Linked DNA regions of Homo sapiens: region 2 is linked to region 1. The links come from fine-mapping of genetic effects on gene expression. A gene starts in region 1. The other region holds a variant in brackets. All regions are shown on one strand. Distances are from middle to middle.

What was found.
Region 2: its variant is fine-mapped to the expression of CLEC2A in whole blood (TOPMed, PIP above 0.99).

The regions. Positions count from the first base shown.
Region 1 is chr12:9,927,787-9,936,122 of GRCh38, forward strand. It overlaps CLEC2A (C-type lectin domain family 2 member A), which reads right to left and starts at 4,584. Exons shown (of 5, transcript NM_001130711.2): 1 at 4,489-4,584. The coding sequence starts at 4,543.
Region 2 is chr12:9,960,328-9,968,663 of GRCh38, forward strand. It overlaps a transcript of CLEC12A not described here. Among named protein-coding and RNA genes, the nearest start is that of CLEC12A, 6.9 kb to the right of the region's middle. The variant A/G (reference allele first, on the strand shown) is at 3,509.

The DNA.
Region 1 (8,336 bases):
CTTACATCTAGAGAAACAATAGCTAAAGATAGAAAACATAAAATGTGTTTTTTTTTTCAAGATTAGGGAGAAATGAAGAACAAGGAAGAAGAAAAGATAAAAACCACTGCACAAATTTCAGACACCCAAAATAGTAATTTGTGGGCAAAGCCATGTCTTACACAAAAGGTATTGAAACAATTGAGAAAAAAAGGCTTTACCATACGACAACATCAGCTTACAAAATTTATTTAAGACGTATTATTGACCTGAACATAAAACCTGAAACCATACAATTTCTAGAAAACATAAAATAGTTTGTGACCATGAGAATTAGTAAAGCTGTCTTAGAGAAAGAAGAGAAAGTACAGTGTAAAATTAAAAGAAAATGATAAATTGAATTTAATTGAAATTTAAGGGCTGGGCACAGTGGCTCATGCCTGTAATCCCAGCACTTTGGGAGGCCAAGGAGGGTGGATCACCTGAGGTCAGGAATTTGAGACCAGCCTGGCCAACATGGTGAGACCCCTTCTCTACTAAAAACACAAAAAATTAGCTGTGCATGATGGCAGGCACCTGTAATCCCAGCTACTCGGGAGGTTGAGGCAGGAGAATACTTGAACCCAGGAGGCGGAGGCTGCAGTGATCAGAATTATGCCACTGCACTCCAGCCTGGGTGACAGAGTGAGGCTCTGTCTTAAAAAAGAAAAAGAAAGAAAGAAAGAAGAAGGAAAGAAAGAAAGAAAGAAACCTCTGCCCATTTCAAGATACAAGACACTGTTGTGAATATAAATATGCAAGTTACAGACTGGGAGAAAATAGTCACAATATGTGTATGCAAAAAAGACTGGTATCGAAAATACTAAAAGGTCTGTAGTTTAGAGATATAGTACAAACAACTTGATAAAAAAAAGAACCAAAGTCTTGAACAAATACTTACAGAAGAATACACGCAAGTGAGCAATAAGCACATAAAAGATGTTCCATATTATTAGTCACAAGCAAAATGCAGAATAAAACCACAATGGAATATGACTACATGCCACTTGCACTGTTAAAATGAAAAAGACTGACAGCACCAAGTGTTAGCAGGATATAGGGGAACCGAAACACATACACAACTGGTTGAAGTACAAAAATGTATAAGTGTTTTGGAAAATTCTTTAGCAGTTTTTATTTTTAATTAAAATATATGTCCTTCATTCCTGTTCTGGCATGTGATATTTGCAATAGATTGGAAGTCATCCCTACTGTTCTCACAGTGACAACAAAAAAAAAGCTGAGAAAACTAAATAAAAACAACACTTCTAGTATACAGAAATAGTATTGATTTGTTAAATGTGCTCTTTTAAGTAACCCTCTTGAACTCTGGTATTATTTTTAATAGTTTTCTAGTTGATTCTATTGGTATTTATTTTTATATAATCAAATTATCTGAAAATATTGCAGATACAACTCTTCCATTGCAATCCTTGTCCTTTATAATTCCTTTTGTTTTCTTATATCACTGGTTACCTTTAGCATTGTACTACACTATTGCTAAACAGTAGTAGTTACAGTGAACATTTTTTTCTTGTTTTTAATCTTAAATGGAATGTTTAAATTTTCATTATTAAGCACTGTAAAAATGCTGTATAAATTTAACATACAACATTAGCAATTTAAAAAAGAATTTTTCTATTCCTAGTTTCTTAACAGGGACTTATCTCAGATAGACATTGAATGTTATCATGTTTCCTTGTTGTTATCAAATGCACTTACTGAATAATTGTGTGGACTTTCTTTCAAAAAATTTTAATATTTTTTGCACTGATATTCTGATATCTAAGCATTCCTAACATAAATCCACTTGTATATGAATTTTTAACTGCTTTGTTGTATATAGTAAATAAATATTTTCTTGGAATTTCTACTTCTAATTTCATAAGAAGATGAGTCTGTTTCTTTTTGTCTTGTTCTGACTTTGTTTGGAAATCAAAAAGTCTATTAAATCGGGGTAAATTTCTCATTTTGCTGTTTTTTGAAGCAAGATGTCCAATACAAAAATTAGCTATTTCTTGAAAGATCAGTAGATTACTCTATTTTAGTTGCCTTTTCAATGTATTTATTTTTAATTTCTATAATTCTATAATTATTTATTTCTTCTCATTACATTTTGGCATTTTATATTTTTTAGACCTCTACCTTCTTTTTTTAATATTTATAAGCGCATTAGTGTTTTAGTTTGCTAGGCCTGCCGTAACAAGTTGTCACAAACTGGGCGGCTAAAATTAACAGGAATGTATTGTCGTACAGTTCTGGAGACAAGAAGTCTGAAATTAAGATGTTGGTCGGATGGGTTCCTTGTGAGGCCTGTAAGGAAAGAATCTGTTCCAGGCCATTCTCCTTGGCTTGAAGATGGCATTCTCCCTGTATATGGATCCGTCTCTAAATTTTCCTTTTTTATGAGAACACCAGTAATATTAAATTAGGTCCCAACCTACCGACCTAATTTTAACGTGGTAAAGACACTATCTCCAAACCAGATCACATTCTGAGGTAGAGGGGGTTAGAGCCTCAATATATAAAATTTTAAGGGAACAGAGTTTGCCCCATAATAATTGATGAATTATTTCCATAATGTTTTATTAAATTTTAATATTTGTGGTTTTTGTGATTATTTGTACTTTTTTGATATTTTCTTTATTGTATCGTCTTCTGCAAACTTTTAGACATCTAGTTCTCTCGTCTTTTCTAATAGCCACCATTTGATTTGTTATCCCTCTCATTTCTTCTCTTTTTCACTAACGTCTCCTATTATCTCATTTTTTAATTTTGTATATTTTTCTTTCACTCTATTGTGCCAGATGCATGTTTTTTTCTTATCTATTTTGTTTGTACACTTTTGAAGTTTCAGTTTGAGGTATTTGGCTTTTATTAGTTTTAGAAGTTGGAATATTATTTCTTCAAATATTTCCTATCCGCTATTCTTTTTTTCTCTCTCTCTGTTTCAGATTCTTGTTATCTAGAAGGTGGCATTTCTACTTCTATTTTTCATATCTCTCAGCTTTTATTTTATATTTTCTAACTGTTTTCTTTTCTGTCATGTTTTTAATAGCATCTCCTAGGTCTTATTCATTCTTAATCAGCGTCCATTCTATTAATTAACTCCTCAAAGTGTTCTTTATTTCAAACACTATATTTCTATAATTATTATTTTCACTTGGTTTTTATTGTGTTCTTGGTGCTTCTTCATTTCATTAATATCTTTTCTTTTGGAGCATTTTTATTATGCTTTAATTAAATTCTCAGACTAGATGTTCTAATGATTCCTGCAGCCCGGCTTTCTCATAATCTTCCAGTACATGCTTCACAGTACTTCATATTTTGTCTTCTCGTTATGCAATGAGATAAATTTTCTTCCACTTTTTACTCTCTAAACTCTTAAATCTGTTACCCAGACAAGCCTGACTAATTTATTTGGCTAAAGGGATGGAATCTTATTTCTTTTTGTAATACTAATGTCCAATTGTGTAAAATGTAGACTAATTTTTAAAAATTTTCTTATGAAGTTTTCATAGATCAAGAGTTCGTAACTATGACCAATAGTTAGAATATACAACGAAGTAAATTTAACCTTACCCTAAAGAAACTTCTAAATAGAACATCCTTAAATTAAAATGGAAAGTCTTCTAAGACAGAGAGATATTATCACTGAAAACATTCTAGTATAGGCTGCTAGAAATGCTGTAGCTAGAAATCGTATGGTAGATGAAAAGTTTTACTAGGTAGCTACTGAGGTCTCTTCAACCTTTAAGAGTATCAGGCTTACTTATTATTAAAAGAATTATCCCAATTGCCCTGGGAATTCATATCAGTAAACTCTGATAGTGGTTTCAGCTGGAGTCCTTAACTCATTTCAAGATTTTACTTTTTATCTCTTCACTGTCTTTATCTTAAAGTTTTGGCAGGCTTCCTATTCCAGTCATTTGGCATACAATTCATTCGTTTTCTTTAACATAAACCCTCAGAACTATTGTGAATGGAGGGTGTTTGTATGTGTACCTTGTTTTTATTTATTGGTTTGTTTATGTTTCAATCCACTGAAAACAAACTTCATTGTTGGCCTTAGCTGAATCTTAAAATTTTTGAAAAGTTCTTTTCAGTCTTATGAAGTCACAATCATCAAGCCTCCTTCCAGAGTGAAGCATTTGCTTTTTATTCTGTATAAAAGTGTTAAGCAATTTTTTCCCTGTGAAAGTACATTTTAAAAATATTCTTATTGAGATATAATACACGTACCATAAAATTCTGCCCCAAAACCTTCTTACACACAAGCTTATACCCTCTCTTGCAGACATAAAACTCTACATGCTCTAACAGGCTTCCACAATTCTCCGGAAGTGCTTCCCCATCCCTCACTTACTTTAGTAGACTTTCACAGTAAGTAAAGAGTCCATATTTTTAAGCTGTCCTGTATTTTGTTTTATCTTTCCTTTACTTCCTTCTCATTCACTCTATAAAACTTACCTATCCGATGTATGAAGCCATCAGCTCTGCCATCCCGCAGCTCTGGATTAATCATGGCAAGGCGCTAACCGATGGAGATCAGTAGGAGAGGACTAGAAAGCTTTTCATGTACATCACTTATTTAGGCACTGAGCAAGCTTCAGTCAAAAGAGACTTAACCAATCCAAATGGAAAACATCAGTACTAATTTTAGATCAAAGATAAAAGTAGGCAGACTTGTTAGTTTAAGGAAGGAATTTAAAAATTAACTCATCCATAACAAAAGGATCGTAAAGTCAATCATGTAAACACCACAACAACCGTGCTATGGAACATTTCCATCATCTTTCTTTTTTTCCTTGTGTAATCACTATCTTTTCTGACCCTGGACCCTGGCAAGCATTACTTTGCTTTATATCAACATAGTTTTTCCTTTCATGGAATTTTTTTTTTTTGAGGCAGGGTCTCACTGTGTTGCCCAGGCTGGAGTGCAGTGGGGAAAACTTGGCCCATTGCAACTTTGACCTCCTTGGCTCAAGCAATCCTCCTGCCCTACCCACCCAAGTAGCTGGGACTACAGTCGCGCACCATCATGCCCTGCTAATTTTATTTTTTGTAGAGACTAGGTCTCATTATATTGCCCAGACTGGTCTTGAACTCCTGGGCTTAAGTGATCTTCTGGCTTCAGTCACCCAAAGTACTGGGATTACAGGCATGAGCCACCACGGCCAGCCCCTTTCATAGAATTTTATATAAATGGTATCATATAATATGTAGTGTCTTGTCTCTTGCTTATTTCATTTATAATACTTTTGAGATTCACTCAAGTTGTTGTGCAGGTAAGTAGTTCATTCCCTTTTATTTCTTAGTAGTATTCCTATTGCATGTTATACCAGAAATTATCTCTTTGATCACTAGTTGATGGACTTTTGTTTCTAGGGTGGGACTGTTATGTATGAAACTGCTGTACACAGGCATTTTTGTGTGAGCAAGTTTTCTCTTGGATAAATTCCCAGAAATTGAATTGCTGCATCATATAAGTATGTTTATCTTTATAAAAAGCTGTAAAACTGGCTGGGCGCGGTGTCTGTCACCTGTAATCCCAGCACTTGGGGAGGCCGAGGCGGGTGGATCATGAGGTCAGGAGATCGAGACTATCCTGGCTAACACAATGAAACCCCGTCTCTACTAAAAATACAAAAAATTAGCCGGGCCTGGTGGCGGGTACCTGTAGTCCCAGCTACTCGAGAGGCTGAGGCAGGAGAATGGTGTGAACCCGGGAGGCGGAGCTTGCAGTGAGCCGAGATCGTGCCACTGCACTCCAGCCTGGGCAACTGAGCAAGACTCCGTCTCAAAAAAAAAAAAAAAAAATTTGCTTCAGCCTGGAATCTTTGCTTTTGGTGCTTCGGTGCAGAGACAGAAAACGGGCACTCAGAGTCACACTGGTAGTTGCACACTGTATCTGCAGAGGGCGTGTCTCATCTGTACCCCGCTGGGTTACGGGATTTCAGGAGGTATTTTTGTCCACCTGCGAATTCCATTTATTACCTTTCATTTAACAGACAATGTCTTTCCTTTCTGCAGTTGATTTTGCTAAAGAGGCAATTCATAAGGTGAGGTCCTACTCATAGTATGACTTGCTTTCTCACGACCTCCTTCCATTTTTAGTAACTCCCTGGTCTATTTGGTGTCTGTAAAAAAAGAATCTGGTAATGGAGACTTCTTTTAATATGGAAATTTGGCCTGGCAATAACTTATTCCTTTCCACATGTAACTGACCCAATCTGGTTTCCAGATGACAAGTATGCAAGCCCCAGATGTTGAGAAGCCATATTTCAACTGCTTCCTGCATCTGTTGAAATATAATTGTTCATACTTGCCATCCCTTATGTTTCTTGTAACAATTTGCACAGTTCTTGCCAGAATAAATGCCATTCTCTGTATGCTTCAGAGAATTCCGCAATTTGATCAGTGTGTGTGTGTGTGTGTGTGTGTGTGACCTTCCGTAAAACACTTCTAAAGGGTGAAAGCTCTTGTATGGCATAGACATGAATTCCTTCCTCTGGTAATAATTAGGTTATTTCCAGAAGCACAGTGTCATTTTTTTTTTTTTTTTGAGATGGAGTTTCTCTCCTGTGGCCCAGGCTGGAATGCAATGGTGTGATCTCGGCTCACGCAACTTCCACCTCCTGGGTTCAAGTGATTCTCCTGCCTCAGCCTCCTGAGTAGCTGGGATTATGGGCATGCACCACCATGCCTGCCTAATTTTGTATTTTTAGTAGAGACGAGGCTTCTCCATGTTGGTCCAGCTGGTCTCGAACTCCTGACCTCAGGTTATCCACCCGCCTCGGCCTCCCAAAGTGCTGGGATTACAGGTGTGAGCCACCATGCCCAGCCCATTCTTTAAATAAAAGCTTTCCTGTTTAAGGCTTTTCAAAGGAGCAGACCACTTTGAAGATTCTCCCTAGGGTTGATATGTGTCTAATTCATTTTATAAAATTATTCTTATCTTCATTTTAAAGCTTTGGCTATACAGTCAGAAATGTCCTGGATAACAAACTATTTTGTATTTAATTTAATTTGCCTCTTCATTGTCTTATTCAACAAACATTTACAGAATGCCTAATTAGTACTTGGCATTTTTCAGGGTGCTTGAAATACGTCTGTGAACAAAATAGACACAGATTCCTTTACTCATGGGGTTTCCATTCCAGGAAGTTTAAACATAAAGACTAAAGATAGTAAACAAATGGTACAATATTCCATATTCCAGTATGTAATAAGTTCCACTGAAAACAAAAGATAGACCAGGTTAAAATTGATTAGTAATGTCAAGGTTGAGGAGTGTGAGCTGCAATTTTAATAGGGTAGTCAGGGTAAGCATCACTGAGAAAGTGAAATGTAAATGAACTTTGAGGAGGGAAAGTGCCATGTGGATACCATCATCCTGGTGGAATTGTGTGAAGATCCTAGGGCAGATGTATGCCTGGCACATTCCGGAAAGAGTGAGGAAGCCAGCTGTGTCTGGAGGAGAACAGTGAGAGAAGAGTTCAGCTAAGTACCAACAGGGTAATTCTGTTTTTGCCATTCTGAGGCCTGTGGCTAATATTCTAAGTGAAATGGGAAGATGGAAAATTCTTTTGAGCAGAATAGCGGTGTGATCTGACATACATTTAATATGTTCACTCTGGGTACTGTCCTCAGAATAAGTTGGAAGGGGATGCAATCCACTCACCTAGCCTGAATAACTATACTTAAAAATGTTCAAAGTTCTGCTCATGTTCATAAAATTCAACCCGCAGCCCATTATTTGTTCCTTTCTCTTTTCTTCTTTACCTGTCAAATTTTCTCCACTGGGCGCTCTGACTCCTTTTAACATTATTTCTATTTCAGTACAGCTGGATAGAAATGTCATCATTAGGAGATGCAAAGCGGTCCCCTTCTAATGTGATAGTCACCACTCCAGAGATGGCTAATGGAGATGTTTAATGACCTTAAAAATGCATAAGTCTCATTCCCCATCCTCCTTTTGCTAACGATGGTCATTTTTTGTAGCACAATAATCTGAAAATTTTAGAATTATTTTTGTTCTTGTACAGTACAGCATGTAAATTATAATTTAACAACACCTGCATTTAACCTGCTAACACGGTTTACACACTATTAAATCCCGGCCCCATAGAGAATGAGAAGATGAGATGCTGATAAAATTTGCTTCTGATGATGCTGAACATACCATCTATTTTTTCTCTTCTTTTTTTTTTGAGACGGGGTCTCGCTCTGTCACCCAGGCTGGAGTGCAGTGGCGCGATCTCTGCTCACTGCAAGCTCCGCCTCCCGGGTTCACACCATTCTCCTGCCTCAGGCTC
Region 2 (8,336 bases), 33 kb after region 1:
AGATATAATGAATCAGGAATACTTTTTGGTAGGCTTAGGATTGTTCTCTTGGATTCCCCAAGGGATCCACTCCAAATTCTCTGGTATTTTAAAATTGGTTTATCTATATTATTTATCATCCTTGTTCAATGTGGCCTAAAACGTTGTTCTAAAACTGAAATAAAAGTACCCAGATCATAGTGCTCCAATGACTACTTCTGATTATAGTGCCACATTTCCATTCCTTATCATTATTCCACCTCACACGTCCTCAGCATGAAGCAGCCAGAAGGATCAATGACCAGATTCTCCATGATTGAGGAAGTGATAAATAGAAAAGAGAGACTGAAACCGGCCCCGTTATCTTATAGAACTAATATTTACAGTTGTTTTTGTTTGTTTTGCTTTGGAACATAGAAATGGACCCTGTCTGGTCTTAAAACTTGAAACTTGTTTGTTTTCCTGAGTTTCTTGCTTAGAAAACCGACTTTCAGGCAAGGAACTGAAACTCATCAGAGCACCACACCCAGGCAATGAGACTGCAGATCCTTCACCCAGCATGATTTTTTCCCTACCTCTGCCTAATTTCTATTTTTCCCCTGTCCACGTAGCATCAAACTCTGTAAAATATTTGAAGAGATTTATTCTGAGCCAAATATGAGTGACCATGCCCGTGACACAGCCCTCAGGAGGCCCTGCGAACATGCACCCAAGGTGGTTCAGGTACACATTGGTTTTGTACATTTTAGGGAGACACGAGGCTTCAATCAACTATAAACATTTACTGATTGGCAATTGGTTGAGTTTATCTAAAGGTCTGGAATCAATAGAAAAGAAATGTCTGGGTTGTGGTAAGAGGTTGTAGAGACCAAGGTTTTATCATGCAAATGAAGCCTCCAGACAGCAGACTTGAGAGAGACTTAAGTATTAATGCCTGAGAGATATAATGAAGCGTGTTCGACACGCACTTCCTGTCATGGCCTGAACCCATCTCTCAGGTTAAATTTTCAAAGAGCTGTGGTTGAAGAGGGAGTCCATTCAGATGGTTGAGGGGCCTTAGAATTTCATTTTTGGTTTACACTCCCCACACAGCTACATTTCTGCCTGCACATAGCTACATTCCTTCCTCACTATATAACCTCCCAATTTTAGTTTGTTGGAGAACAAAGCCAGAATAAAGCCAATCCTAGTCATAGCATTGCAACTTGTATCAGATGAAAGAAACCTACAAAAAGATAATTATAAAATTTAGATAAAATGTATAAAACAACTGAGAAGGCAAAATTTGAGGGGCTCCAATTAATCAAGGTTTACCGCTTATATTCTGTGTGACTGCCAGAAAAAAAGAAACAAAACTTTTTGGTAGGAAGATCATTTAAAATTTCTGTTTTTAATACATAAGGCCTGTTATTTAATAAAAAATTATGAGACAACCTAAAAAAAAAGAATTAAATATCAAAACACCAATTGACAAGCCAAATGATAAAAACTGGCCTACATATGGTTCAGAAAATGATTTCAATAAATCTACTCTTCACCATTCTAATCCCTTTGCAGTGCCCTAGGATGGTGACTGACTCTCATGTATAATATCCCTGGACACTATTGTCCTGAAGCTCTAGGTATGTTTGTGCTAATAGGAAGAATAGGCAAAAGATTTAAAGGTGGGAGAATCCTTCCCTACAGCACTAGGAAATGGATATGGAGTTGTTCTCGCTGAGTGTACCTCCAGGGAGGCAGCCTTCATCAGCTATAGTTTCTGCTGCTTCAGTTAATTGCTACCAGCAATGTTCTCTCAGGCCTAATGTAGTAATGGCTTCCGGCAGTAGCTAGCCCTGGGGTATTTCACTATCCCTCATGGTTTCCTTTGGTCTTATCTCTATCTTGTAAATTGTCCTGTTATTTTATCTTCTTAAATTTTCCTTTTAATGTATAACCGGTTTTTTCTTTTTTTTTTTTTTTTTTGGATCCCAAGTGTGTGTTTCTTTTTGGTACCTGAGTATATCACTGTCACTGTGGTCTCTCAACTTTTAAATTATGTGACTCTGAAGGTGTGTGTCTCCAAATTTTTATCCCTGTGCACTTTTCTTCACCTGTCTTCATTTCTTTCCCTTTTTTCCGTTATAACTTTCACTCACATCCGTGTGAAGAGACCACCAAACAGGCTTTGTGTGAGCAACAAGGCTGTTTATTTCACCTGGGTGCAGGTGGGCTGAGTCCGAAAAGAGAGTCAGCGAAGGGAGATAGGGGTGGAGCTGTTTTATAAGATTTGGGTAGGTAGTGGGAAATTACAGTCAAAGGGGGCTTGTTCTCTGGCGGACAGGAGTGGGGGCCACAAGGTGCTCAGTGGGGGAGCTTTTGAGCCAGGATGAGCCAGGAGAAGGAATTTTATAATGTCATCAGTTAAGGCAGGAACAGACCATTTTCACTTCTTTTGTAGTGGAATGTCATCTGTTAAGGCAGGAACCGGCCATCTGGATGTGTATGTGCAGGTCACAGGGGATAGGATGGTTTAGCTTGGGCTCAGAGGCCTGACATTCCTGTCTCCTTATATTAATAAGAAAATAAAAATGAAATAGTGGTAAAGTGTTGGGACGGCAAAAATTTTGGGGGCTTGGTATGGAGAGATAACGGGCGATATTTCTCAGGGCTGCTTCCAGCGGGATTAGGGGCGATGTGGGAACCTAGAGTGGGAGAGATTAAGCTGAAGGAAGATTTCATGCTAAGGGGTGATATTGTGGAGTTGCTAGAAGAAACATTTGTCATTTAGAATTATTCGTGATGGCCTGGATACGGTTTTGTATGAATTGAAAAACTAAACAGAATAAGAGAAGGAGAAAAACAGGTATTAAAGGACTAAGAATTGGGAGGACCTAGGACATCTAATTAGAGAGTGTCCAAGGGGGTTCAGCATAATTACTTACTTGGTTGGCAAGTTTTTGGGCTCTATCCTTGAGTTTTTTATGTTGTCATACACCAGGCCAGATTGATTTAGGTAGAAACAACACTCTTCATTTAAGAATATACAGAGTCCTCCTTTTTCAGCAGTGACTAAGTCAAGGCCTCAGCGGTTTTGGAGGACAACTGCAGCTAAAGAGTCAACTTGGGCCTGGAGGACTGATAAAGTTTGTGATATGTCTGTGATGCTAGCAGAGAAGACACTAGAGAGGCTATGGAAGGTCGTGACAGAGGTTGAAATGCCTCCTATTCCAGTACCGAGAGCAATAGTGGAGGCAGAAAGTCTTAAACTGATAAGCAAGGGAATTAGTGGAATAACTCTTTTTTGTCGTGTCGGTGTCATGAGGGGAACAGGGAGCTCTTCGGTCCTATTTGCAAATTGAATTTTAGGAGTAAGGAAAACTAGTGTGCATGTACCTGTCCAATTAGCAGGTAGACACATGGAGGTAGAGGATCCACAGAGGAAGAAGAGACCTTGTGCGAGGCAAAACTGGAGAAGCAAAGTAAAAAGATGAGAAGGAGTGCTGAAAGGGGTGTCTTGTACCCAGACTCCTGGGGATCCAGCTAGGGC[A/G]GCAGCCATCAGAGGTTGTAATGGGGACTGGTGGGGTAACTGCGTAGAGGGGGAGGTTCGATTTTCATGGTGTATGAGAAAATGTTGAGTGTCTATGAGCTACCTTTCACTGTTATTTATGGGGCTGGGTATAAGTAAACAACAAGAGGGCTTTGGAGATGAAGAGTAAAGGAACATCAAAGTGAAAGGTTACCCAGGGGAATTCCAGTGGGTCTTTGCTGAGAGATACATAAAGGAGCAGCCACAGGAATAGTAGTTTGTGTTGTGAGAGGTAAATACGGGGGGAGTAGAGTTGATACAAGGAGAAAGGTTTTTTAAGTAAGTGTGGAGGAGGGCGGCAGCTTGCTGACGTGAAATGTCTGGGGAGGTCTAGCTGGACCTGTCTAGAAAGTAAATGAGTTCATCAGGAGGGTAAAGGTGAGGGCTGTTAAAGGAAGTTTGGAGGTGTAGGAGACAGGAGATGTTGCCTAGTCTGCATGTAAGGTGGGGACAGCTGTGTAGGCATTGGAAGAAAGGGAAATGCAAAGCTAGAGTTTGTTCGCTAAGGAGGGATTAGAAACAGCTAGGAGAGAATGAGTAATGTTTATAGTGTGGTGGAGATAGCTGGGGAGAGGTAGAGGGTGGCATAAGAATGGGAATGAGAATAAGATTGAGTATAAAAGTAAAGAATAGAACTTCATCAGGGTGAAAGTATTGGAGGGTCCCCTGCCAGCAAAGATTATCTATCCCCTCTGAGAGGGAGTTAAGAGTTGCCAGTCCTGGGTGGGGGCAAATCCTCGAGCTTGATGTGTAGGGAAAGGAGGGGGCCTGAATAATCTATGAGGAGGAGTAGAATAGTAGATGGAACAGAAGTTATTTCCTTGAGGATAGATTTCCACGATGGAAAGGAAATGAGAGGTTCTAAGAGGTGGGCTGGTGACTTGTACTATAGCATAGCCTGCCTTTGCTGGTGTGTGGCGATTAGGCCTGGTGGAACTACTATGAATAAACTAAGTGTGTTCAGGGTGAGGAACACGAAAGAAGGAAATATGAGGAAAAGGGGTGAATGTCAGGTGAATCAGAGAGATACAGTCATAGGGGTCAGGTGTGGTATCCAGAATACTGTGGGAGGCTGGATTGAAGTCTGGGCCAGGAACAATGGTAATTGTCAGAGACTTAACAAAAAGGGAGTGTAGCTGAAGGAGCCAGGGAGCAGAAAGTGTATGCGTCAGGTGGGAGAAAGAAAATAGATTTTGGAAATTATGAGAACCGTAGAGAATGAGTTGGGCATAGTTTGTGATTTTTTGGGCCTCTAAAAGTATTAAAGCAGCGGCAGCCACTGCATGCAGACATGAGGGCTAGGCTAAAATGGTAAGGTCAAGTTGTTTGGACAGAAAGGCTACAGGGTGCGGTCCCAGCTCTTGTGTAAGAATTCTGACTGCCCTAACCATGCCTAGGAAGGAAAGGAGTTGTTGTTTTGTAGAAGGGATTGGGGTTTGGGAAATTAGCCGGACATGATCAGCAGGGAGAGCACATGTGTTTTTATGAGAATTATGCTGAGATAGGTAAGAGATGAGGAAGAAATTTGGGCTTGACTGAAGTAATGGGGGCTGTCTGTGAAGCCTTGCGGCAATACAGCCTAGGTAATTTGCTGAGTCTGATGGGTGTCAGGGTCAGTCCAAGTGAAAGTGAAGAGAGGCTGGGATGACGGGTGCAAAGGAATAGTAAAGAAAGCATGTTTGAGACCCAGAACAGAATAATGGGTTGTGGAGGGAGATATTGAGGATAGGAGAGTATATGGATTTGGCACCATGGGGTGGTTAGGCAAAACAATTTGGTTGATAAGGCACAGATCCTGAACTAACCTGTAAGCCTTGTCTGGTTTTAGGACAGGTAAAATGGGGGAATTGTAAGGGGAGTTTATAGGCTTTAAAAGGCCATGCTGTAGCAGGAGAGTGATAATAGGCTGTAATCCTTTTAAAGCGTGCTGTGGGATAGGATATTGGCATTGAGCGGGGTAAGGTGATTAGGTTTTAATGGGATGGTAAGGGGTGCAGGATCAGTCGCTAAGGAGGCAGTAGAGGTGTCCTATACTTGTGGGTTAAGGTGGGGAGATACAAGGGGAGGATGTGAAGGAGGCTTTGACCTGGGGGAAAAGGTGGCAATGAGGTGTGGCTGTAGCCTAGGAATAGTTAGGGAAGCAGATAATTTAGTTAAAGTGTCTCAGCCTAATAAGGGAACTAGGCAGGTGGGGATAACTAAAAAGGAGTGCTTAAAAGAGTATTGTCTAAGTTGGCACAAGAGTTGGGGAGTTTTAAGAGGTTTAGAAGCCTGGCCATCAGTACTTACAACAGTTATGAAGGCAAGGGAAACAGGCCTTTGAAAAGAAGGTAATGTGGAGTGGGTAGCCTCCGTATTGATTAAGAAGGGGACGGGCTTACCCTCCACTGTGAGAGTTACCTAGAGTGTCTGTGATGGTCCTGTAGGCTTCTGAGGTGATTGGGCAGTGACAGTCTTCAGTTGTTAAGCCGAGAAGATCTGGGAAGGAGTCAGTCAGAGAGCCTTGGGGCAGAGTTCCAGGGGCTATGGGAGTGGCTGCCGGTGAGATGGACAGTCTGATTTCCAGTGGGGTCTTGCACAGATGGGACATGGCTTAGGAGGAATCTTGGGCTGCGGGCATTCTCTGGCCAGGTGGCCAGATTTCTGGCACTTTTAGCAAGCTCCTGGGGGAGGCAGGCCTGGAGGAATGCCTGGCCACTGTGGTTTAGGCGTTTGGAAGTTCTTGCGTGCTGGAGATGTGGCTGGGGTTTGTCTCACAGTGGAGGCAAGGAATTGCAACTCAGAAATATGTTGCTACTTTGCTGCCTCTACTTTATTATTGTACACTTTGAAGGCGAGGTTAATTAAGTCCTGTTGTGGGGTTTGAGGACTGGAATTTAATTTTTGGAGTTTTATTTAATGTCGGGAGCAGATTGGGTAATAAAATGTATATTGAGAATAAGACGGCCTTTTGACCTTTTAGGATCTAGGGCTGTAAAGCGTCTCAGGGTTGCTGCCAAACGAGCCATGAACTGGGCTGGGTTATTATATTTGATGAAAAAGAGCCTAAACGCTATCTGATTTGGGATAAAGAAAAAGGAACATTAACCTTGACTATGCCTTTAGCTCCAGCCACCTTTTTAAGAGGAAATTGCTGAACAGGTTGGGGAGGGCTAGTCATGGAATGAAACTGTAAGCTGGGCCAGGTGTGAGGAGAGGAGGTGATAAAAGGATTACAGGGTGGAGAAGTGGAGGCTGAGGAAGAATTGGGACCTAGCTCGGCCTGGTGAGGAGGCGAGAGGTCACATGGGTTTGTAGAAAAGGAAGATTAGAAAGACTCAGCGATGCTTGGGGTTGGGACTGAGGGGACAGGCGGGAGGGAAAGAAGGAAGATTTGGGATGAGTTGCATTGGGAACAGAGACTAGGGAGGGACCAATGTGTAAAAGAATGCCTGGACGTCAGGCACCTCAGACCGTTTGCCTATTTTACAACAAGAATTATTTAGATCTTGTAGGATGGAAAAATGGAAAGTGACATTTTCTGGCTATGTGGAACTACTGTCGAGTTTGTATTGGGGTCAAGTGGCATTGCAGAAGAAAATAAGGCATTTAGGTTTTAGGTCAGCTGTGAATTGAAGAGGTTTTAGGTTTTTAAGAGCACAGGCTAAGGGAGAAGAAGGGGGAATGGAGGGCGGAAGCTTGCCCATAGTGAAGGAGGCAAGCCCAGAGAGAAGAGAGAGTAGAGACATGGAGAGAAGGGGTTGGGGGTTCTTGCCCCCAAGAAGAGCGGTACTTGCCGCTAAGGGTGAAGGAGAAGGGGTTGGGGGGTTCTTGCCCCCCAGAAAAGCGGAGAAGGGGTAGAGACATGGAGAAAAGCGGTGGGGTTCTTGCCCCCCAGAAAAGCAGAGAAGGAGTAGAGACACGGAGAGAAGGGGTTGGGGGTTCTTGCTCCCAAGAAAAGCAGTACTTGTCGCTAAGGGTGAAGGACCAAGGCAGGTGTCCCCACATGGTCAGACACCTCTGAAACATGGGTGAATAATCAGGCAGGCATCCCTGCCTGATTCCAAAGGGAAGACTGTCTTCCCAATTCCGTGACTGGTGCCGGAGTTTTGGGTCTATGAATAAAACGCGTCTCCTTCATCTCTGTCAGAAAAGGAAAGGAACTGAAATTAAGAGAGAGATTGAAGGGTGATGCCAAGATTGAAAGGAGAAAGAGGTTGAGGGATAGTGAGAGAGGTTGGAGAAGAGAGTAAAAAGAGGCCACTTACTGGATTTAAAATTGGTGAGATGTTCCTTGGGCTAGTTGGTCTGAGGACCAGAGGTCATAGGTGGATCTTTCTCATGGAATAAAGAGCAGGAGGACAGGGGATTGATCTCCCAAGGGAGGTCCCCTGATCCGAGTCACAGCACCAAATTTCACTCGCATCCGTGTGAAGAGACCACAAAACAGGCTTTGTGTGAGCAACAAGGCTGTTTATTTCACCTGGGTGCAGGTGGGCTGAGTCTGCAAAGAGAGTCAGCGAAGGGAGATGGGGTGGGGCTGTTTTATAAGATTTGGGTAGGTAAAGGAAAATTACATCAAAGGGGGGTTGTTCTCTGGCGGGCAGGAGTGGGGGTAACAAGGTGCTCAATAGGGGAGCTTTTGAGCCAAGATGAGCCAGGAGAAGGAATTTCAGAAGATAATGTCATCAGTTAAGGCAGGAACAGGCCATTTTCACTTCTTTTGTGGTGGAATGTCATCAGTTAACGCAGGAACCGGCCATCTGGATGTGTACATGCAGGTCATAGGCATATACACAGGCATATGATG